2 linked regions of the Homo sapiens genome follow. The protein of the gene in region 1 interacts with the protein of each later gene in a pairwise test. Each region holds a gene or a part of one and is shown in the gene's direction. Other genes may lie near its edges.

Region 1 (11,602 bases):
AATTATCAAAGCGTCTTCTTAGAGCCAGACACATTGCTGGGTGTGCTGGTTTATTTAATTTAATGTCTTATACCTTTCTGAGATAGGGATTCTTGTCCCTACTTTACAGAGGAATAAATCGAGGTTCCAAGAGTTAAGTGACTTGCCCATGGTCCCACAATGGGTAACCTAAGCAGCTGGGACTTCAGTCCAGGTGTTTAATTTGCCTTAAGTTGCTGGGGTCTTGCTCAGTGGTCTGGGGCCTCTTACGCTTGTCTGCTGCCTCCGCCAGCCCCACAGTGACCAGAACCCTGAGCTCAGGTCATACCTGTGTCTTCTCTCATCCTTGCAGAACTGCCCTGAGACCCTGGCCGGCACCCTTTATGTCTCTGCTTCCCTCTCAGAGGGCTTGACCCAGTGGTTCTGAGCTCTGGCCCTTCTACTGCCTCTTGCCAGCTCTGGGTCTCAGCCTTCCTATCTGTGAGTTAGACACCAGGTAGCTGGAGGGGAAATCCCTCCTCCCATGGCACTTCCCAGGGGAAAAGGTAGGGGAGTGCCAGGTTGGTCTCAGCATGCGCCCAGCTACACAAAGAGGCCAGGTAGGCTAGGTCTCTGTCTAACATCCCACCATTAAAAAAAAAAAAAAAAAAAATATATATATATATATATATATATATAATTTTTGAGATGGAGTCTTACTCTGTTGCCCAGGCTGGAGTGCAGTGGCGCGATCTTGGTTCACTGCAACCTCCGCCTCCTGAGTAGCTGGGACTACAGGCACCTGCCACCACACCTGGCTAGTTTTTTGTATTTTTAGTAGAGACGGGGTTTCACTGTGTTAGCCAGGATGGTCTCAATCTCCTGACCTCGTGATCCGACCGCCTCGGCCTCCCAAAGTGCTGGGATTACAGGCGAGAGCCACCACGCCCAGACTTTTTTTTTTTTTTTTATTAAAGAGCTTGAGGTAGGCCTCAGGAATCTGTATTTTAAATACACTCTGGATCATTCCAGCCAATACTTTTGTTTGTTTGGTTTTGAAACAAGATCTCACTCTGTCGCTCAGGCTGGAGTGCAGTGGTGCAGTCATGGCTTACTGCAGCCTTGACTTCCCAGACTCAAGCAATCCTCCCACTTCAGCCTCCCAAGTAGCTGGGACTACAGGCATGCACCATCATGCCTGGCTAATTTTTATTTTATTTTTAGTAGAGATGAAGTCTTGCTATGTTGCCTGGGCTGGTCTAGAACTCCTGGGCTCAAGTGATCCTCCCACCGCAGCCTCCCAAAGTGCTGGGATTACAGGCGTGAGCCACCGTGCCTGCCCAACCAATACTTAAGAACCAAACACACATCCTTAGGTCTCCACGAGCTCTCAGGAGAGGAGCATTTTAAGTGTTCACTACACCTCTTTTTCAGATATTGAGATTAAGGTCCCCACAAAGGAAAAACTGTACACAAGGACACACAGCTGGTCAAGGAGCCAGACTCGAACCCAAGTCTCCATTCTCTCCCCCAGGTTGAATCATGAGACTTCCCACTGCTCCCAGGAAAAAGACCAATATCTTTTCCATGGCCAGCATAGCCCCAAACCATCTAAATCCTGCCTACCTGGGCAGATCACTTGAGGCCAGGAGTTTGAGACCAGCCTGGCCAACATGGTGAAACCCCATCTCTACTAAAAATACACACACACACACACACACACACACACACACACACACCTGCCTACCTCACCTCCCACTCCTCTCCCTGGCCCACTGGGCTCTACCCACAGAGGCCTCCTTTCTTCTCCTCAAAGAGCTAAATTCCTTCCCACCTCAGGGCAGTGGCACTAGCAGTTCCCTCTGTCTGAGCCACTCTTCTCCCACGATCTTTGTGTAGCTGTCTTTTTTGGTGTTATTTGGATCTCAGCTCCCAGTCACCTCCTCAAAAAGAGCTTTCTTGACCACCTTTCCTTTTCTTCCCCCCTTTTAATATTCCAAATTTTTTCCTTTTTTAACCAACCAAGGAGCACTGAATGACTACCTTTCTCAATGCTATCTTTACCCCTGATAATCATTCTCTATCTACTCTTTATTATTATTATTATTTTTTGACGGAATCTCATGATTATCTATCAAGCAGTTCTCCTGCCTCAGCCTCCTAAGTAGCTGGGACTACAGGTGCCCGCCACCACGCCCGGCTATTTTTTTTTTTTTTTTTTTTTTGAGACGGAGTCTCACTCCGTCACCCAGGCTGGAGTGCAGTGGCACAATCCTGGCTCACTGCAAGCTCCGCCTCCCGGGTTCATGCCATTCTCCTGCCTTAGCCTCCTGAGTAGCTGGGACTACAGGTGCCCGCCACCACGCCCGGCTAATTTTTTGTATTTTTAGTAGAGACAGGGTCTCACTGTGTTAGCCAGGATGGTCTCAATCTCCTGACCTCGTGATCCACCTGCCTCGGCCTCCCAGAGTGCTGGGATTACAGGCGTGAGCCACTGCACCCGGCCCAATCCCGGCTAATTTTTGTATTTTTAGTAGAGATGGGGTTTCACCATGTTGGCCAGGATGGTCTCGATCTATTGACCTCGTGATCCGCCCGCCTCGGCCTCCCAGAGTGCTGGGATTACAGGTGTGAGCCACCGCGCCCGGCCCTTTTTTTGAGACGGAGTCTTACTCTGTCCCCCAGGCTGGAGTGCAATGGCACAATATCTGCTCACTGCAACCTCCGCCTCCCGGGTTCAAGCGGTTCTCCTGCCTCAGCTTCCCGAGTAGCTGGAATTATAGGCGCCCGCCACTACATCTGGCTCATTTTTGTATTTTTAGTAGAGAGAGGATTTCACCATGTTGGCCAGGCTGGTCTTGAACTCCTGACCTCAAGTGATCCACCCACCTTGGCTTCCCAAAGTGCTTGGATTACAGGCATGAGCCACCGCACCCAGCCCTCTTTACTTTTTAAAAAATGTTTTTATTTTTATTTATATATTTATTTTTGAGACAGAGTTTCACTCTTGTTGCCAAGGCTGGAGTGCAATGGCACCATCTCTGCTCACTCCAACCTCCGCCTCCCCGGTTCACGAGATTTTCCTGCCTCAGCCTCCCGAGTAGCTGGAATTACAGGCATCCACCACCACGCCTGGTTAATTTTTTGTATTTTTAGTAGAGATGGAGTTTCACCATGTTGGCCAGGCTGGTCTCGAACTCCTGACCTCAGATGATCCACTGCCTCGGCTTCCCAGAGTGCTGGGATTACAGGCATGAGCCACCGTGCCTGGCTTATTTTTATTTATTTTATTATTTATTGTTATTATTATTTGAGACAGAGTCTCCCTCTGTTGCCCAGGCTGGAGTGCAATGGTGTGATGTCAGTTCACTGCGACCTCTGCCTCCTGGGTTCAAGCAATTCTTCTGCCTCAGCCTCCCAAGTATTTGGGATTACAGGTGCCTGCCACCACAGCCAGCTAATTTTTTGTATTTTTAGTAGAGATGGCCATGTTGGCTAGGCTGGTCTGGAACTCCTGACCTCAGGTGATCCACCCACCTTGGCCTCCCAAAGTGCTGGGATTACAGGCTTGAGCCACCATGCCCGGCCTATTTATTTCATTTTTATTTATTTATTTTCTTTGAGAGAAAGTCTTTGTTGCCCAGGCTGGAGTGCAGTGGCTGCATCTCAGCTCACTGCAGCCTCCACCTCCCGGATTCAAGTGATTCTCCAGCCTCAGCCTCCCGAGTAGCTGGGACTACAGGCGAAAGCCATCACACCTGGCAAACTTTTGTATTTTTAGTAGAGACAGGGTTTCACCACATTGGCCACGCTGGTCTCGAACTCCTGACCTCAAGTGATCCGACCGCCTCAGCCTCCCAAAGTGCTGGGATTACAGGCGTGAGCCACCGTGCCTGGCCTTTATTTTTATTTAGAGATTGGGTCTCACTCTGTCACCCTGGAGTGCAGTGGCTCAATCATAGCTCACTTCAGCCTCAAACTCCTGCACTCAAGCAATCCTCCTGAGTAGCTAGGACTATAGGCACCCACCACCACACCTCGCTAATTTATTAAAAATTCTTTGTATATAGAGATGGAGGTCTCACTACGCTGCCGACAGTGGTCTCAAGAACTCCTGGCTTCAGATGCTCCTCCACTATGGCTTCCTAAAGTGCTGTGATTACAGGCATGAGCCACAGTGACCAGCACCCCTCCTCTCTAATTTCCTTTATGGTGTCATCTGGACAATACTCCTTGCAAGCTTACCATGGGCAAGGTATCATTCTAAGCATTTTGTGCATAATACTCAACTACTCAAGCCAACTGCACAGCTGCCTAGCAGTTCATTATGAGTGAATGTTTGTGTTCCCTGTCCATTCATATATTGAAATTCTAACTCTCATTGTGACTGTATTTGGAGACAAGGCCTTTATGGAAGTAATTAAGGCTGAATGACGTCATAAGGGTATGGCCCTGGTCCAGTAGGATTAGCGTTCTTATGAGAAGTGACACCACAAAGAAACAAGCTTACTAGTCACGGTCCCAGCCAGTGTTCAAATCCCAAACACCTGCTCTCTGAGCCCTGACTATTGCTTTGCTAGCATTACACATCTTATGGTTTGGCTGTTAATTCTTCATCACCAGCACCAGAGTCCAGGCTGGCAAAGGGCTAGGAAACCGATCATCTGCCTCCTCTACACCCAGAACCCTGTGTGGTGACCCAAAACAAATGGAAAGAACCAACCTCAGATGAAATTTGAACCCAGGTCTGTAGCCTCTGCCTCCTCCACAGTAGGAGTTTGTGAGAATGTCCACCAATAACTGTTTATTAACTAAATTCCTCCACCTTTCCAACTCCACAAGGCTCAACTATTGCCCCAATATCCCACAGTGGGCTCCCTGTCGTGGCGATGAAGCCTTGCTTTGCCTCACTACTGGCTTAGGAAGGGGATGAAGTTCTGCTGTCTCACTAGGCAAGCAAAGATTCAATTTCCAAAAATCCTAGGCTAGGACCCTGGGGCAGGGATGAGGAGAAAAAGGAGGCACCTCAATCTTCCCATCTCTAAACAAGCAGTCACCACACAGGCCTCACGGCCAGGAGTGACGTAGTGAGCGGATGAACCCTGCAGAAGTGAGCGCTAATCATATCCTAGGCCTCCTACCGGGCCAGTTCACAACCTGATCCCAACCTACTTTTCCAGCCTCAGCTCCAGCGACAGAGTCCTCCTCCCGGCAGCGACCGAACCTCCAGCCACAATTCTCAATCCTCCACCTCTAGATGCAGTTTCCTGGGCTCGGGGAGCCCTTGCCTGCCTTCTCCAACGGGAAAGCCCCTTTACATCCTTCAAGAACCCCCTTCCCTAGTGCCCTCAGGAATACTTTATGGCAGTAGAGAGGTAAGGGCCCCACGCCGCTCTGGACCTCAGTTTCCTCATCAGTAAAATGGGGTCCCTTAAGTTTGTGGGAGTTTGAAGGGCGGTGGGGCCTACGAAGCGCGCCGAGGAGCCGAGAGTTGCAGAAACCCGGAGCTCCTCGCTCCTCGCAACCGTCTGTACGCGGCGCCCCCGCCAGCCAGGCAGCCCCTGGAGGGCAGGACCCCGGTTATAAGCCTCAGAAAACGTGGCTTCGGAGGACGTGGCAAGGAGGACTGAACGAAGGATGAGGAGATGAACAAATGAATGGACGGAAGGCCGAATGAGGGACAAAGGCTTGCAAGATGGCGTTCTCTAGGACCGCGGGAGTGGTGGCCGGGCCTCAGCAGGGGAGGGGGCCGCCGGCGCCTGGGATCTTGCAGCGCGGGCCACGCGACCGGGACAAAAACCCAAAACATGGCGGGCTCTAGGACCCCCGGGACCACACCGCGCCGGGCCAGCAGCCGCGCGGGCCGAGCCTGGGTGTCCGCAGCCCAGAACCGCGGAGACAGCCGGCGGGTTCTAGGACCTGCTGGGCCCGCAATGCGCCCGGGGCCGCTCACAGCCCGCCCCGCCCGCGCTGCTCGCGCTGGGCCAACCCGGCCCGCCCTCGGCGCCCGCAGGGAAACTGAGGCCAGCTCGGATCGTGGCCGCGTGGGAGCTGCCCGGGGCCCTCGCGGCTTCCCGCCGACGTTTCCTACCTGATGAGACTTGTGCTGACTCCGTGGCGTCGGCGTCGGCTCCTCGCACCGACGGAGCCCGGACCCTGCCAAACAGGGGCCGGCGCTAGGACCCAGCGGGGGGCGGGGAGGTGGGACCGGTGGCGCGGCGAGCGGAAGTGAGGGATCTTCCTCAGCTAGGAAGGAAGGGAAAGTTCCCGGGGAACCTCCAGCCTATGGCGGCAGAGAAGCATCTTGCAAGAGGTCTCTGTGTGTGCTGAGGCAAGGGGACGCCAGGCAGGCTGACGGTATACGCCCGCCTTGTGTTAGTCTGGGGCCAGGTCACCGGCAATGTCTTCAAGAACCAGAAGGTGGGAGGACAAAAAGGCCATGCTCAAGCTCTGCAAAACCTAAGTCCAATTATATTCCACAACATTTCCTTTAATAGCAAGGAGTGGGTTTCACGAAGTTTTCTCCATCTGCCTTGGGAAAAGTCCTCCAGAGAGCCCCACGAAAAGTGTCACCAAAGTACTGTGGCCAGGGCTGTAGAATCTTTTTCTCCCTTTCTGCGCCTATTCAATATGCACCGGAACGATTCTAGCTGCTCTTGCCGGAAGTGTGGCTAGCTTAGCGTGCAAAGACGCCGCGTTGTGACCTACGTGGGCGGAGTCAGCCGTGCAGACCTAGAACTTAGCGCCGGAAGTGTGTCTGCGTAAAACTGCGGCTCGGAGGCGGGACAGGCAGTGCTCCCGAAGCGGAAGTTTCGCGGGGAAGCTTTTGCACCTAAGGACACTTCCTGTTTCCTAGTAACAATAGGAAGTGTCCGTAGAGCTGGGAGTAGACTCCTGGCTCATGCCAGCTGCGCCCTCTTTTCTCTACCTCCTTCCTCTTCCCCCCTTCTCCTTTCCCTCTTTCCCTTCCCTCCCACCTCCCGGGAACCCTGGCTGAGTGTGCGTGTGTGGGAGCGCGAGAGCCCCCCGACAGCCACCCCTTGGGGCGCGCGGCTGCAGTTAGGGTAAGGGTCCCAGTGCGCAGGCGCGCTCTTGTTCGCGGTCCCCAACTGACGCGCCCGCGGCGGGAAGGAGAGGGGGCCGCCGGTGCGAGGTAGGCGTCCTGAGAGGAAATTGGCAGACGAGATGAGTGAGGTCAGAGGACTTCATTGGTGGTTGACTAGGGGAGGGGACTTTTGATCAAAGGGGCTTTGTGAGGTGAGAATTCCGGGGGCAGGTTCAGTGAAGGGGTTTACGGTCGGAGACAGTTGTACTGGGGTCCCATGGGAAGAAGAGTCAGAGTTGGAGAAGGACAAGACGATGTAGGGGGCATGAGAGAGCAAGGGCTTTGGGATGAAGACCGCCTCAGTCAGGGGGTTTGCTGTTACGTGAACTAGAATAACAGGCATTGCCGTGTGTTCTGAGGATTGAGTAACACAATGAATATAGTTAGCACAGTGCCTGGCACATGGTAATATAATACTCTTCATGAGTTGCTGTCATCATCAGTATTAAGAGAGGAGGCAGAAGAAAAAAATGAGAAAGACTGGTGAGGGTAAGATCAGGAGGCATGGGAGAGAAAAGGTAGGCAATGAAGTGACATTACAACCTGGTATTGATGTTATTCCCAAGATGGAAGATAGTTTGAGTTCAAGGGAAGTAGATAAAAGAAGTCGCTAAGAGAGTCTTTTGGGGTTTTTTGTTTTTTTGAGATGGAGTCTCGCTCTGTCACCCAGGCTGGAGTGCTGTGGTGGGATCTCAGCTCACTGCAACCTCCACCTCCCAGGTTCAAGCAGTTCTTCAGCCTCAGCCTCCTGAGTAGCTAGAATTACAGGTGCCCACCACCACGCCCGGCTAATTTTTGTATTTTTAGTAGAGACAGGGTTTCACCATGTTGTCCAGGCTGGTCTTGAACTCCTGAACTCAGGTGATCCACCAGCCTCGGCCTCCCAAAGTGCTGGGATTACAGGCGTGAGCCACCACACCTGGCCCAGTTAAGAGAGTCTTAACTCTCTTAACTCTCTTGTCACAAGGAAAAGAGACCTTGTGACACTGAAATGACTCGGGGTGGTGGGGGAACAAGCCAGCCCTTTCCCTGAAGGAGGCCTCTAACCTCTCCTCTCAGGTCCTCAGCTATTAACTGGAGGAAACAGCTGCTTTTTCAGTGCTTCTCAGCTACTCTGTTTAGCTGAGAGATGAAGTAGGAAGATTTGGACTTCTCTTATTGAAAGGCCTAGAGAAGGTTTTGGTGTCCTTTTAAGATGTCACAGAAAATTTTTGTTTCAGGATTGTAGGGAGCAGATTCCTACTGTTCTTAAAGGACAGTAATGCCTTTTGAGTCTGGTCTGAAGAACATAACAGGTCTGTGATCAGAAGTAGGTTGCATCTCTCTCAACTTTAATTTCCTTAGCTATACCTGTAGGGATGACTTAAGCCTAGGGGAGCTCCTATATTTGGGAAGCTTGTGCACAGGGAAGCCTTAAATGATGGTGCCTGCAGATTGGATCTAGTAGAAATTAGGTCCTTGGGCATGGATGCTTGGGGAACCTCTCAGTGACCTCAGGTGAACTTGTTGCTCGTAGAGCCAAGAGGCGAAGTTAATTCAGGCCTTCCTTTTGACCACTGCCCCCTCTTCCTAGGCCTTGGCCCCTCCACCAGAGGAAGGTGCTGCCACGTGTCTGCTCCTTCTGAACCTCCAGGTTTCTGCTACGTTGCCCCATGGAGGACACACCCCCCTCACTCAGCTGCTCCGACTGTCAGCGCCACTTTCCCAGCCTCCCAGAGCTCTCTCGGCACCGAGAACTGCTCCATCCATCTCCCAACCAGGACAGTGAGGAGGCTGACAGCATCCCTCGGCCCTACCGTTGTCAGCAGTGTGGGCGGGGCTACCGTCACCCCGGGAGCCTGGTTAACCATCGTCGGACCCACGAGACTGGCCTTTTCCCCTGTACCACCTGTGGCAAGGACTTCTCCAATCCCATGGCTCTCAAGAGCCATATGAGGACACATGCTCCTGAGGGCCGCCGCAGGCACAGGCCCCCACGCCCCAAGGAAGCCACTCCACACCTCCAGGGTGAGACGGTGTCCACTGACTCCTGGGGCCAAAGGCTTGGCTCTAGTGAAGGCTGGGAAAACCAGACAAAACATACAGAAGAGACACCTGACTGTGAATCTGTACCTGACCCCAGGGCAGCTTCGGGTACGTGGGAAGATCTGCCCACCAGACAAAGAGAAGGCTTGGCAAGCCACCCAGGTCCTGAGGATGGTGCAGACGGCTGGGGACCCTCCACTAACTCTGCCAGAGCCCCTCCTCTCCCCATCCCAGCCAGCAGCCTTCTTAGCAACTTGGAACAGTATCTGGCTGAATCAGTAGTGAACTTCACAGGGGGCCAGGAGCCCACCCAGTCCCCTCCTGCTGAGGAGGAGCGGCGGTACAAATGTAGTCAGTGTGGCAAGACCTACAAGCACGCCGGGAGCCTCACCAACCACCGCCAGAGCCACACGCTGGGCATCTACCCCTGTGCCATCTGTTTCAAGGAGTTCTCTAACCTCATGGCTCTGAAGAACCACTCTCGACTGCATGCCCAGTATCGGCCTTACCACTGTCCCCACTGCCCCCGTGTCTTCCGGCTCCCCCGGGAGCTGCTGGAACACCAGCAGTCCCATGAGGGTGAAAGGCAGGAGCCACGCTGGGAGGAGAAAGGGATGCCCACCACCAATGGGCACACAGATGAGAGCAGCCAGGACCAGCTCCCCAGTGCACAGATGCTGAATGGCTCTGCGGAGCTCAGCACCTCTGGGGAGCTGGAGGACAGTGGCCTGGAGGAATACCGGCCTTTCCGCTGTGGGGACTGTGGCCGTACTTACCGCCATGCTGGGAGCCTCATCAACCATCGAAAGAGCCACCAGACAGGTGTCTACCCCTGCTCACTCTGTTCTAAGCAGCTGTTCAATGCGGCTGCCCTCAAAAACCATGTGCGGGCTCATCACAGGCCCAGGCAAGGAGTTGGGGAAAATGGGCAGCCATCAGTCCCACCAGCTCCCCTGCTGCTGGCTGAGACCACCCACAAAGAGGAAGAGGACCCCACCACCACCCTGGACCATCGGCCCTATAAGTGCAGTGAGTGTGGTCGTGCTTACCGCCACCGGGGGAGCCTGGTGAACCATCGCCACAGCCATCGGACTGGAGAGTACCAGTGCTCACTCTGTCCCCGCAAGTACCCCAATCTCATGGCCCTGCGCAACCACGTGCGGGTACATTGCAAGGCTGCTCGCCGAAGTGCAGACATCGGGGCTGAGGGTGCCCCCAGCCACCTCAAGGTAGAACTCCCGCCTGACCCAGTGGAGGCAGAGGCAGCCCCGCACACAGATCAGGACCATGTGTGCAAACATGAAGAAGAGGCCACGGACATCACCCCAGCAGCAGACAAGACAGCAGCACATATCTGTAGCATCTGTGGGCTGCTCTTTGAAGACGCTGAGAGCCTTGAACGTCATGGCCTGACTCATGGGGCAGGGGAAAAGGAAAATAGCAGAACAGAGACCACAATGTCACCTCCTAGGGCCTTTGCCTGCCGAGACTGTGGAAAGAGCTATCGCCACTCAGGCAGCCTTATCAACCACAGGCAGACCCACCAGACAGGAGACTTCAGTTGTGGGGCCTGTGCCAAGCACTTCCACACCATGGCTGCCATGAAGAACCACTTGCGCCGGCACAGTCGGCGGCGGAGCAGGCGGCATCGGAAGCGGGCTGGCGGTGCCAGCGGTGGGAGAGAAGCCAAACTCCTGGCAGCGGAGAGCTGGACCCGGGAGCTAGAAGACAATGAAGGCCTGGAGTCTCCCCAAGACCCTTCAGGGGAAAGTCCTCATGGGGCTGAAGGCAACCTGGAAAGTGATGGGGACTGTTTGCAGGCTGAATCTGAAGGGGACAAATGTGGGCTTGAGAGGGATGAGACCCATTTCCAGGGTGATAAAGAGAGCGGAGGCACTGGGGAAGGACTGGAAAGGAAGGATGCCAGTTTACTTGACAACTTGGACATCCCAGGTGAGGAAGGTGGTGGCACTCACTTCTGCGATAGCCTCACTGGGGTGGATGAAGACCAGAAGCCAGCCACTGGCCAACCCAACTCCTCTTCCCACTCTGCCAATGCTGTCACTGGCTGGCAGGCTGGGGCCGCTCACACATGCTCTGACTGTGGGCATTCTTTCCCCCATGCCACTGGCCTGCTGAGCCACAGGCCCTGCCACCCACCAGGCATCTATCAGTGCTCCCTCTGCCCGAAGGAGTTTGACTCTCTGCCTGCCCTCCGCAGCCACTTCCAGAACCATAGGCCTGGGGAGGCGACCTCAGCACAGCCTTTCCTCTGCTGCCTCTGTGGCATGATCTTCCCTGGGCGGGCTGGCTACAGGCTTCACCGGCGCCAGGCCCACAGCTCCTCTGGCATGACTGAGGGCTCAGAGGAGGAGGGGGAAGAGGAAGGAGTGGCAGAGGCAGCCCCTGCACGCAGTCCACCACTGCAGCTCTCGGAAGCAGAGCTGCTGAATCAGCTGCAGCGGGAGGTGGAAGCGCTGGACAGTGCAGGGTATGGGCACATCTGTGGCTGCT
Region 2 (12,049 bases), on another chromosome or scaffold:
CTGAGGGAAGCCCTGCATTAGAGTCGCCTGGTTGCTAGCAGAGCTTTCTTTGACACTCCTCTTAGAACAACATATTTGCCTGCTTAAGATCCATGATAACTATGTTTTCTTCCTGTCACTTTGAATATTTTCTAGAAAATATGTGTCTTTATACAACTACTTTTTTTTCTTGAAAGAATCACCACTTAAAAGATTCCACCTCTCAATCTTGGTGCACTGGGGATTAAGTTTCCAGCATATGAACTTTGGGGGAGACATTCACATCATAGCTAACACATTTGCTTTTTTTTTCTGTGGGAGGTGGGATAGGATGGGATGTTAAGCCATGGCATATGTTGCTGTCGCTCCTTTAATTATCTGTGTTTGTGTGTTTGTATGTATGTGTGTATATATATATATATATATATATGTTATTTGTGTGTGCCCTTGAGAGTGGCATAAAGTAAACTAAAAAATAGACCAAACATGGAAACACTGTTATCTTAGGTAAGTTTTAGTTCTGTGACTGCTGAGAGAATATTACTTGCTGTTTTCTGATGGAGGGTCTAACCAGTGGAAACTGGAAAATGAAAGTAAGCAATTTTCACTAAGTTCTCTATGTTCCTAACAGCAGCAATTGCTTTTAATATTCCACAAATAAACATTGTGAAGATTTCCCTGTTATTTTTTCCACTTAAAAGTTGTAGTCAACATAGATGATTTTCTAAAGAAACTAGATGATTAGAATTTTGGCTGTATTATAATCTGGGGAAAAATTAGATGAATTTTCCATAATGACTCTCTACATTAACTCTTTGAGTAAAAAATTTGTATGTAATACAGTGACTCTAGACAGACACTATTTTGTGCTAATATCAAAAAAGTGTGAAATTTCCTATTGTACATTTATTTATATGGTGCATTGAAACTATATGATACTTTAGATATTGCTGCTTTGGGTAACTTCTTCATTATATAGGTGTTTGAACATTTGTCTTTTAAGTTTAAATCTGGAACACTAATATTTATTCTTTACCTACCAGATTAAATGCCTGTGCTTTCAATAATGAATTTTTAAAAATCCAGTCTAGACCATGAAGGAATTACTGAATCTTCTCTAAAAACCTACATTAGGCAAGGCCAATGATAATGTTGTAGTTAGTTACAAATACATAGTGAATGTATGCATCTCCTGGGCCCCAGCCTGGGGCTTCTACCCTTGTTTCAAGAATAATACGTGGCAATATCTTGGCCCTGGAATGATATCCATTTGCTTTACTAGCCTACTATTTCATTTGCCTGTCGTTAGAAAAGTGGATTTCTGGATTTCCATCTCATGATGATTATAGAAAAGTCACAATTTGAAGATTCCTTAATTTGAAGCTAGGTGATATTTACATGCCCATTAAGTTAATGAGAGTGGAGATCTCCATGTATTTCCCTACTATGTCTTTTTGCCTGCAAAGCCCCCTCTCCCTTGAATCACTGACATTCTCACAATGTAAATAAATTTCTTGACATCTTTCTCTTGCCCAATGCAGTCATTTGACCTACTAATAAAAATTCAATTCACCCAAATTTCTATTTCATTGTCCTTCTTACATCTTTAGTATTTTCTTACCTTATTATTTTTAAAGAGTTTGCTAGCAAAACTTCAGTTTTCTTTACTTTAAATTTTGGTTACAAAACCTGTAAGAAGAAAATGGCCAAGTTATATCAACTGCTAAATACTAGTTAAAATACAAACAACAGCAAAAAAGACAAATCATGGACTAGAGAGCTATTCTATAAGCCCCACAATATCAAATCTGTTTTCAGAATCAAAATTACTTTTAAAAATACTTTAGAATATTTTGTGGAAAATATTGATGATTTACCTTAGTAAAAGATGCACATTTAATATACCAGAAGAATCACTGAAATGGAACTGAGCAACTCTAACTTATTTATCATACAGGTATGTTGCATGCTCATGTACATATTCATTACGCTTCAAATGCAGTAAAATGGTGTCTTGTGAATAAAGCATTTTAAATTCTATTTTATGCATTTAAAAATTTTACACTTATTTCAAAATACAAAAAACCTAATATTTTTCTTGATTTTTTTTCTTTTGGCTATTGTAAATGAGCAGCTGACTAAAGAGTACAAATAAATATTCATTTTGTTAGATAGCTCATGAGTTTTCATGAGAACTAGTTTAGCCTGAGACCCAATAATAACTTCCCGTCATCTTAAGAAGGGGACTATAAAAATTCATTTCACCTAATATTAAGCATGACACTAATTCAGTATTAAATGCTAAGTACATTAGCAATTATGGTACAGTACGCTGTTACTTTCCAAGTCTCTGCAGTAAGTTTTTCATCATTAATGGTTTATTATTTTTTTCTTTTCTACGCAGAACTTACCATTTGAAATAGTATAACTTGAAAACAGCCAAACTATTTCAATTTTTACTTATATCCATGTAAATATATATTCCTTATGGCCAAATCTATCCACTAAACACAATTATAAAACTAGTTCTATAGGAATTAATAAAATAGCAGGCACTTGAATCCCTGTACTTAATTCACAGGGAATCAATGTAAGTTCCAGTTTCTGTAAAAACAATAAAGCAAAAAGGGATCCTTGAATTATTGTCTAATTTATCAAAGTATAATTAAAATTCTATTGTCTGACTCATCCCCCTTTATAGTCCAAAGACAGTTCCGGTTGTGCATTATTATTCATTGCAATAGGATGATTGCTTTCCTAAAACATATTAACACAAAGTAATGTATAAGTGGGTTTGTAATGTGCCTAAAATAATAGGTATTATCATTACAGATCTTCCTTGGTTTTACTTTTCTATCAGTAATGTGGAAAGCAAAATTTGAAAATATTTATAAACTAGAGAAGCTCAGATATTTTGAATTGAATAGGGTGACCAACTCTCCTGGTTTGCCCGAGACTGGAAGATTCTTAGAACTTTTAGTTTTAAAGACAGGACAATTTCAAGCAATTTTAGGATTAGTACAATCTCTGGCAAATGGGTTCAAGTTACTTACCCTGAGCCAGAATGTAATCTTGTTGAAATAAAGACAGGACTGTTTTGTGAAAAGGAACTTTTTGAAAACCTTGTTGCTGCTCTTTCAGGATTTTCCAAATTTGTCCTCTTCACCTCCCTGACCCCTAAGTCAAGCAAGTTGATGTTAAAGACACTCTTCTCTCTCTGGATACAGAATAGGACAGTAGCAACACTTATAAGTTCTGCAGAAAGTAATGAGGGGTAGGGGCCTCAGCTCTACATCACCTAGTCTGGATATGAAGCCAGTCTTTGCCATTGATTAGGTGAATGATTCTGTGACTCCATTTTCTCTAATATTAATAGAATATTAATAATATTGAACTTATAGGGTTGTATGAACAATACCTATCATGCATTAAGAAGTCAAGGAAGTTAGTTAATTTTTTGTGATCTTGATTATGATTAGCAACTTAGAACAGACCGTCATGTCTGCCAGTAATAGCTTTAAAATCTAGATTCCTAGGAGGACTTGTTACTTTTAGCAATCTTCTGCCAGAGGAAGCTTCTGTCTCCTGAAAGGCTCAGCTATATATTTGTTTGTTTATTTTTTCCCATTCAAGATATACACATGAAATGACAGAAGAAAATTTCAAAACTTAAGATTCTTCCAGGAAATACAGTGTCAGTGGAATGGATAAGTGGATAAAATTAGCACAGTTCTTTTGGGCTAATTATGTTTTTAGTGAAGGATGACAAATTCTACAGATTTATTTTTGAATAGCCAGTATTATAATAAAGCTACTTTATTGGAATAGCTCATTAAATGATTCTGAGAATCCATTAAGGAAGGCATGTCAGTTTTTATTCTCAATTATGAGGATTGGGTGCAAGACTAAAGAGCATGTTGGAGTTCAACAGGCCACAGTTTGGTCTGGCTACCAGTAGAACTTTGCTTCTATTAAAGTTATGAAAAAGGAAGACTGCTGAAAAACAGGTTGTGAGTTGTTTCTGGAATTCTAGAGTATGAAGTCAGTTCCTTCAAAATTGCATTGTTCTAACTGTTAGCATCTAATGTCAAAGCTTCATCTCAGATAGGCAGTGGGGCAGGGCTCAGATCAAGCCATTCTCCTCTACTCTATCCCTGAAGGAATCTGAGGTAGACACTTCCTAATTAGCAGAAAGTAGACTTGTGCCTGATCTTTGATCTTGTAATTTAGCCAATTAAGTTTACTACATGACACTTAGTAAAGATAATTTGTCTGTTAAGACGTAATTGCAGGACTTTGATTTTTCACATAGGGTTTATTTCCAGCATTTACTAAGTACAACGCAGAAGATGTTTAAGAAAATATTGGAAACACTCAAAAGGTTGAGATGGAAACCTGGTCGCTCAAGATCTAAACAGCTGGTCAAAAGCATCATTGAAAAACATACTTAAAATATTTATTTTTACTTTAAAAATGAAAGAGAAAAGGCTAGAATCCTGGATTTTGCATATGAAATTATAAAGCATTTAAGGGGAAGTCAATTTAAAAAAATAACACAGCCTGAGATAACTAAATATATTCTATTCCTTGAACACCTTTTAAAGTCAATTGTAAAAGTCATGTCTTTTCAGCTTTTTACTCTATTTGTGTTTGTTATAACAGATTCCTGACTCTCAATATCAGATTCATCCTGGAACAGATTTTATATCATGAGATGTAAATTTAAAATGAAAATGTAATGTGTATACATCCTATAGTTGCATTTAGATATGCCAGCTTAAATACTGATAAGTATTTACATAATTTAGTGTAAAAAAACTCACTTTTTTCCAAAATGCCTAAATATTTTTGGTTTTTTTATTTTTGGGGAAAGTGTTTTAGTTTTTATTTTCCTTTGTACATGTAGACAGACTTTCTACAAATGAGGAAGAACCTTCTCTCTTTGTGCTGCTCAAAAACATTAAGTAACCCCATTTAAACCCTAAATAAACTCTAAAACATCAATGAAAAACGTATTTAAAATATTTGTTTTCACTTTAAAAATGAACGAGATGGCTGGGCACAGTGGCTAATGCCTATAATCCCAGCATTTTTGGAGGCCAAGGCGGGCAGATCACGAGATCAAGAGATCGAGAACATCCTGGCCAACATGGTGAACCCCGTCTCTACTAAAAATACAAAAACTAGCCGGCGTGGTGGCGGGTGCCTGTAGTCCCAGCTACTCCGGAGGCTGAGGCAGGAGAATCACTTGAATCCAGGAGGCGGAGGTTGCAGGGAGCTGAGATTGCGCCACTGCACTTCAGCCTGGGTGACCAGAGCAAAACTCCGTCTCAAAAACAAACACACAAACAAACAAAAAAAAAACAAAGAGAAAATCCTGGAATTCTGAACCCAGCTTAGCAGTTGTCTAATTATGTCCTCTATACATTGTATCTGGTATATTTTTAGACATAAACTCATGGCTTCATGAACCCCAATAATAGATCTATAGGAAAAAGTCATTTTGTATTCAACATTTTCCCATGGAAATAAAGAATTCCCACAGGTTAAATAAGAATTTGGCCTTTTGCCCAGAAGAAGGAAATTTTCATGGAAGCTTTTTTAGAATACAGTGAGTTATACAAAGTCACAGTACTTCTGCTTGGTTTACTTTTAATTAAAACAACAGTAATTCAGAGCTATTATTATTTTCAATATTTGTAAGTTGCTCATTTCTTCATTGCAAAAGAAAATGTTTTGAGAATGATCCATTTTATATATCACATTTAGAAATAAATGCACTTCTGAAAGTCTGTGTTGGAAAGCAGAAAAATGAAGTGTCTTGTGTAATCTGCATTAAGAGAATTACTAGATCATAATCTACATAAAAGAATATTTAGGACTATATATTTTGTCATTTAGTCCTCTAATTAAAAACAAGGACACTTTAAATGAACAAGCTTGTTAAGATACCTTGACCTCCCTCCCTCCTTTCCTCCCTTCCTCTGTCTCTAGCTTAAATACAAAAAGTTGTGTATTCAAAAGCAACAGTGTGCAAGTTATTTTGATACTATTCTTTGCTAAGTTTAGAATTGCATTGCAATTCAATTTTATTTTCTGTCCACTTTGTTTTAGTGTTAAGGAATAACCAAATAGAGCATTGAGGATTATAATATTGAGTGCCCAAGAATAGTAATCAAAAATCTGCCAATAAAGATGCTATAAAATTGGATGAGTTCGTAATGTCTTAAGCAAATATTAGGGATTTAGGTACGTATTAGGCAGATATTTGGGGATTCTAAACATGTGTTCCCATGATGGGAGTGTAACACTTGGATAGAAAGGAAGTTACCTAATTGTGATCATTTTGGGGAATATTGAGTGGGCAGGGATGAGGGTGGGAGTGGGTAGAGGTGGGGGTGACTGCAGTATAGTGTACAATTCACTGCAGCCTGCGTGGTCTCCCTCGCTCCTTCACGATTTTCCCTCTTCTTCAAAGTTTGTGTCAGGATGTCTTCCTGGCCATTCAAGTGGAAAGATACATTCCTAACAGCTTGGTTGTGAGGAAAGTAATATTTTTAAAGGTATGATTCAGTTTCAAGATGAAATTTTTGGAGCTCGGGAATGATTTTTAACCCCCACCCTCTCCCCGCCAAATTCAGCAAATGGAAGAAGCAAGGCCCATCCGAGAACTATTCCCAGGCACCAGCTCAAGGCGGAGGGCTCATGGGGAAGCTGAGTGACCTGCTAGGGCCCAAATCCGTTTTTGGCCTTTGCCCTAAAACAGTTCCCCGATGAGAGTTTGGAAGGGGCAGAAAGGAAAGTAACTATCTGGAGCAGGCGAAGAGTAGCAACGCCTCGGGTGCTAAAATCGGAAACCCCACCCCCTACCCCACAACCCTTTCCCAAAGGTAGTAGGCTGAAAGGGGGAATTCCTCGCGGGCGCCGACTCGCTCGCATCTCCTGAGAGGCAAGTTTCTTCGCAAGCGTTAGCCACCTGTGTGAGGCGCTCTGGGTGGGAAAGGTGGCGTGGGAGAAGCGACAGCTCGGCCACACCGCTCGGGAGCTTTCCTTAGTGAGGCCGGCCGTCAAAATACCTCCAGAACTCAGAGCTTTGATGATGCAGAGTCCCCTATGCCTCGTACGTCGCTAGGATCGTAGCTCAACATTCTCCAGGCTGGTCTGCTCTGGAGTCAGCTGAGGCCTCCCGAGTTTGCCCGGGGTCCTCCCTGTCCCCTCCCTCCCACCTCCCCACCCCCGAAGTAGCGCTCCCGCCTCGCTCCACCCGCACACCCCCGGCGCGCCTCGGAGGCTTATCAGGCTCCCCGCACGCCCCGCAAGCTTCCTTGGGCGCCCGGCGCGAGGGACTCTGAGAGCCCAGCCGCTGCCTCGGAGCCCCCATTCACGTCCCCTCCTCCCGCTCCCCCGCCACCGCGCCTCCGACTCTTCTCCCCCGCGCCGCGGCGCCCACCGCGTCTCAGGTTTAATCCCGGGTTGGACCTGCTGGTTTGCTCTCCCCGCTCTGAGCCTCACAGCCAGCCCAGAGAAGTGGAATCTGCACTGAAACTCTGGGTGGCTGGAGCCGGCGGACTGGGCATGCTCAGAAGCCAGGGCTGGCTTTGGTCTCAAGTAGGAAGCTTTGGCACTCGGGAGGCAGCGGCGACTTTGGGGAAAGTTGATCGGAGAGGGGAGGAAGCCTCAAGACGCGGAGCAGCGGCAGGAAGGAGCCCCCGGCAGCCCGGAGGAGCATGGGCACCTTGCGGGATTTACAGTACGCGCTCCAGGAGAAGATCGAGGAGCTGAGGCAGCGGGATGCTCTCATCGACGAGCTGGAGCTGGAGTTGGATCAGAAGGACGAACTGATCCAGAAGCTGCAGAACGAGCTGGACAAGTACCGCTCGGTGATCCGACCAGCCACCCAGCAGGCGCAGAAGCAGAGCGCGAGCACCTTGCAGGGCGAGCCGCGCACCAAGCGGCAGGCGATCTCCGCCGAGCCCACCGCCTTCGACATCCAGGATCTCAGCCATGTGACCCTGCCCTTCTACCCCAAGAGCCCACAGTAAGCAGGGGTGACGCGCCGGGTCCATGTGGCGCCCTGGCGATGGGGAGCTGCGGGTCTCTGTATTGTCTGTCGGCCCCCGCCCCTCCCGCTTGCCATGTCTGTCCTCATCCTCAGAAATGTTTCATTTTAACGGGCACTTCTTGCGGGGCTGTGCACGTTTCTCAGAGCCAGACTCACTGCACATACGTTGCCTTCGTGTCTTTGTCAGATGTCAAGGTATTATTTTTAAATATACATATACATTCGTATAAGCCACCTAGTGTACGTAGAGTTTGAACACGTCCCAGGTGTGTGTCCGACCGTGTGTGTGAGTGTGAGAGAAGAAATAAAAAGCCCCCGTCTCCCAAAAGCCCTGGCAAACCAGCCCAGCTGGAAAATCCTAAATGCAGGCTCATCAGACTTGAAATGAAATGCGTCTGATCACCCATACTTTCTATGCTTTTGTGGCTCTCCCGGATTTCTCTACCTGCTGGCGCTTCACGCTGGTACCCTTCAAACCTGACGTTCTTGTCATCATCAAAGTGTGAAACATAAGCAAATAGGCATAGAAAAAGGAAGAATTTTTGATTTCCTGAATTGGATGACATTTACAATCCATAAATGGAAGACTAGTCTGTTGATTTTGAAGAAATATTTTTTCATAACATATGAGGGAGAAGATTGCTTATTTTACTTAAGAAACGTGCATAATGTTACTAATGGAGCATCTCCATCTCCCAAGAGGTGGTTGCTTGTTTCCAGGGTCAGATACAGATAAGCACACTTATCTTATTTAAAACGTGGACCCATTGTTTGCCTTACTCTTGGCTTCTAATGCAACCACTCTGGCATTGTTCTAGCCTTTTAGGGAACTGTGCAATTCTGATGTTAGTGGGCTTCATAACTTGGATGGGAAAAATTTAATGAAACTTGTTATACAACACTCAACTCAGAGTTCATATGGAGAGTAAAGCGACAGGAACATGAGGTTAACAGAATGTGGGAGAGCACCCAAAAGAACGGCATTTTAAATTAATAGATAATAACGTAATTGATAAAACCAAGGATATTGCTGCTTACTCTACTACTAACGAAATCACATTGGCTGGATGGCACGTGTTACGTAATAATGCAAGGTCCATCGAAACCCTTCACTTCATAAATACAACAAGTTAATATAAGGAGAAAGTAAATATTTGATTATCTCTATTTGTATTTATTGGATGTTTTTTGGGGAGAATCACAGCATGTACCAATTACTACTTTTGAAAACTTAGAGTTATACCTATACATGTTGATTCCCATGGAACATTTGCTGTTCATGCAGGCTTAGTTTAGGGAGGAGTTTGTATTCTGCGAGGGAGTTGGAAAGAGACAATAAGGATAAACATTTCTGAGATTCTGACCTTACCAAATTGCCCTAATAGTTCAGCAGACTTAGATCTGCCTTAGAAACCTGAGTGATCTGAATAAACTTCAACTTTCTCTGGTAAATTAATTTGCAATCCTGACATGCCTGACTGTTTTAGCTAACGAGGTACATGACCATCTCTCCTGGGCCAAGTTTTGCATAATGAAAAAATAACTCAAAGACAGCTCTCTGCATCTTTAAACATTTCATAGGATCTCATTTTTGTATCCGCAGGACTTTTGAGTGACACAGAGCAAACTCTGCTTTTACAAAAAGACCACTTTAATAGGTTTCATAGTGAAGCATGTTGAAGCCAGCTGATAACTCCAGTTACACATTCCATCAGAGATTTACAAGATTCTAGGCAGTAGGGAATGAGCTATACAATGTGATAAGTTTAAAAGCCTCTTTGTACATGACTTGTAGAATATCTAGATTGAAAAACAAACAAACGAAAAAGGTCCAGAGTGGAAAATAAAGCTGGTGTGGCAAATAATTTACAGCATCCCATTATAATAACATTTTATCTATCATTATAATAACATTTTATCTATCAAACAACACTGTGTGTCCTGATACTGATTTCTTACTAATAACTTGTATTTTAAAGGACTCAGCTCTTAAGGTATTGCCATGATGCTTTGGGTGACTCTGAAGTATTTTATTGAGGAAAATGATAGAATGCCTTCCAAGCTTAAATAATTTTGGAAAAACATCTGTTCTTTTTTCACACTTACATAAAGAAAACTAGAAAAAAATTGGCTTGAGTAGTAGAAAGTGTACCTTTCTTAGGGAAAAAAGAAGTACATTGTATGCAAAATGAATAAATCTTATGTTGTTTGAATGGTTGTACAAGGTAGCTCCACAAAGAGTTAAGAAAACCTGCCAAACCAAAGAAGACTTGTTTGCCTTTCAATGTATTTCACTATGAATAATTTGATTACACGGACTTACTGGCAACAAGTGTTTGTGTCTTTGTATTTCATCTTTACTACATCTTAAATGTAGCCATCTTTCTTAAACATACATATAGATTATTGTGAGTTTCCAGTTAAAATGAAACTATCTAAATAGACACATTAATTTCCAGTTTACGTTCATGCTAGTTTTTGATTCTCTTTTTTTTAGATGTAGGTAACTGCCCCGCTAATGTTCTGTTCATTTATCTGATATATGCAAATATATCTGTTTAGTTTTTACTTACTAAGGTTGCCTTCTGAGGATTATAATTTTTTTTAGTTCTGGTTTCTTGGTAAATTTGGTCATTTAAAAATAGTATAAAATGTAAATTAACTTAATAACTTGAATCATTTTAACATTTTTGGCTTGGAATTTTTCCTTTAATGTGGGAATTGGAGGGAAGGTTCTGTCAGATTCCAGCACTGAGCCAGGACACTCCTGCTATAACTATGAGGTAGGAGGAGGGTTTTTATTGGTCTCTTTCACAATCTGTATAGATACAATACTTATGTGAAGGAAAGAACTGATGTAGCAAATTGGAATCTGTATTCCACTGCTACCAAATAACTCCTTGAGAATGTAAAACTACTAAACTATATTTGGAAATAAACTGAGCAAATAAACCCTTAAAATGAAAAACAAAACCTAAGCATTCATTATGTGAGATCAGATAGCCTGTTGATTGCCTATATAGAATAGTTCTTATGGACTTAAGTAATTTTATTTCATGAAGTTTCATTCCTGAAATTGATTCTATATCATGTTAGAACATTCAGTCTCTGAAATTTTGATCTAAACCCCTTATCTTTTGAAAATATTCCCAAATCTTTTCCATTTTCATGTCACAGGGTTTCAGTCATTTCAGTTGGATTATATAGACTTGAGTTCCTAAAAGTGGTTAGTGTCTTTGTATTTTTGTAAGCTGTTGCTTTCACTCCATGTTCTATTTTGTTTCCTTTCTTTTTCCTTTGTTGTTGTTGTTGAGACAGAGTCTCACTCTGTCACCCAGGATGGAGTGCAGTGGCACGATCTTGGCTCACTGTAACCTCCGCCTCCAGGGTTCAAGCAACTCTCCCATCGCAGCCTCCTGAGTGGCTGGGATTACAGGCACGTGCCACCAATGCCTGGCTATTTTTTTTTTTTTTTTTTTTTTTTAGTAGAGATGGGGTTTCGCCATTTTGGCCAGGCTGATCTTGAACTCCTGAACTCAGGTTATCAGCCCACCTGGGCCTCCAAAAGTGCTGAGATTACAGATGTGAGCCACCACACCTGGCCCCTGTTTCACTTTTTCATTGCGAAGTACTTTGGAGGAGTTGAGGATAAAAATATTTATTTATATTTATTTATTTATTTATTTATTTATTTATTTATTTATTTATTGAGACGGAGTCTCGCTCTATCGCCCAGGCTGGAGTGCAGTGGTGCCATCTCAGCTCACTGCAAGCTCTGCCTCCCGGGTTCACACCATTCTCTTGCCTCAGCCTCCTGAGTAGCTGGGACTACAGGCGCCAGCCACCACGCCCGGCTAATTTTTTTGTATTTTCAGTAGAGACGGGGTTTCACAGTGTTACCAGGATGGTCTTGATCTCCTGACCTCATGATCCGCCTGCCTTGGCCTCCCAAAATGCTGGGATTACAGGTGTGAGCCACCGCACCCGGCCTATTTTTATTTTTAAGGA

Evidence for each region.
Region 2: the proteins of ZNF646 (region 1) and PRKG1 interact in binary tests that used the Homo sapiens proteins (3 or more experiments, as listed by UniProt).

Annotation. Positions count from the first base shown.
Region 1 is NC_000016.10:31,067,610-31,079,211, forward strand, and holds the start of ZNF646 (zinc finger protein 646), read left to right. Parts: upstream 1-6,812; 5' UTR 6,813-7,022; exon of another isoform or gene 7,023-7,152; intron 7,153-8,636; 5' UTR 8,637-8,715; coding exon 8,716-11,602. UniProt on the Homo sapiens protein: May be involved in transcriptional regulation.
Region 2 is NC_000010.11:51,066,885-51,078,933, forward strand, and holds the start of PRKG1 (cGMP-dependent protein kinase 1), read left to right. Parts: upstream 1-7,602; 5' UTR 7,603-7,706; coding exon 7,707-8,017; exon of another isoform or gene 8,018-8,228; coding exon of another isoform or gene 8,229-8,236; intron 8,237-12,049. UniProt on the Homo sapiens protein: Serine/threonine protein kinase that acts as a key mediator of the nitric oxide (NO)/cGMP signaling pathway. GMP binding activates PRKG1, which phosphorylates serines and threonines on many cellular proteins.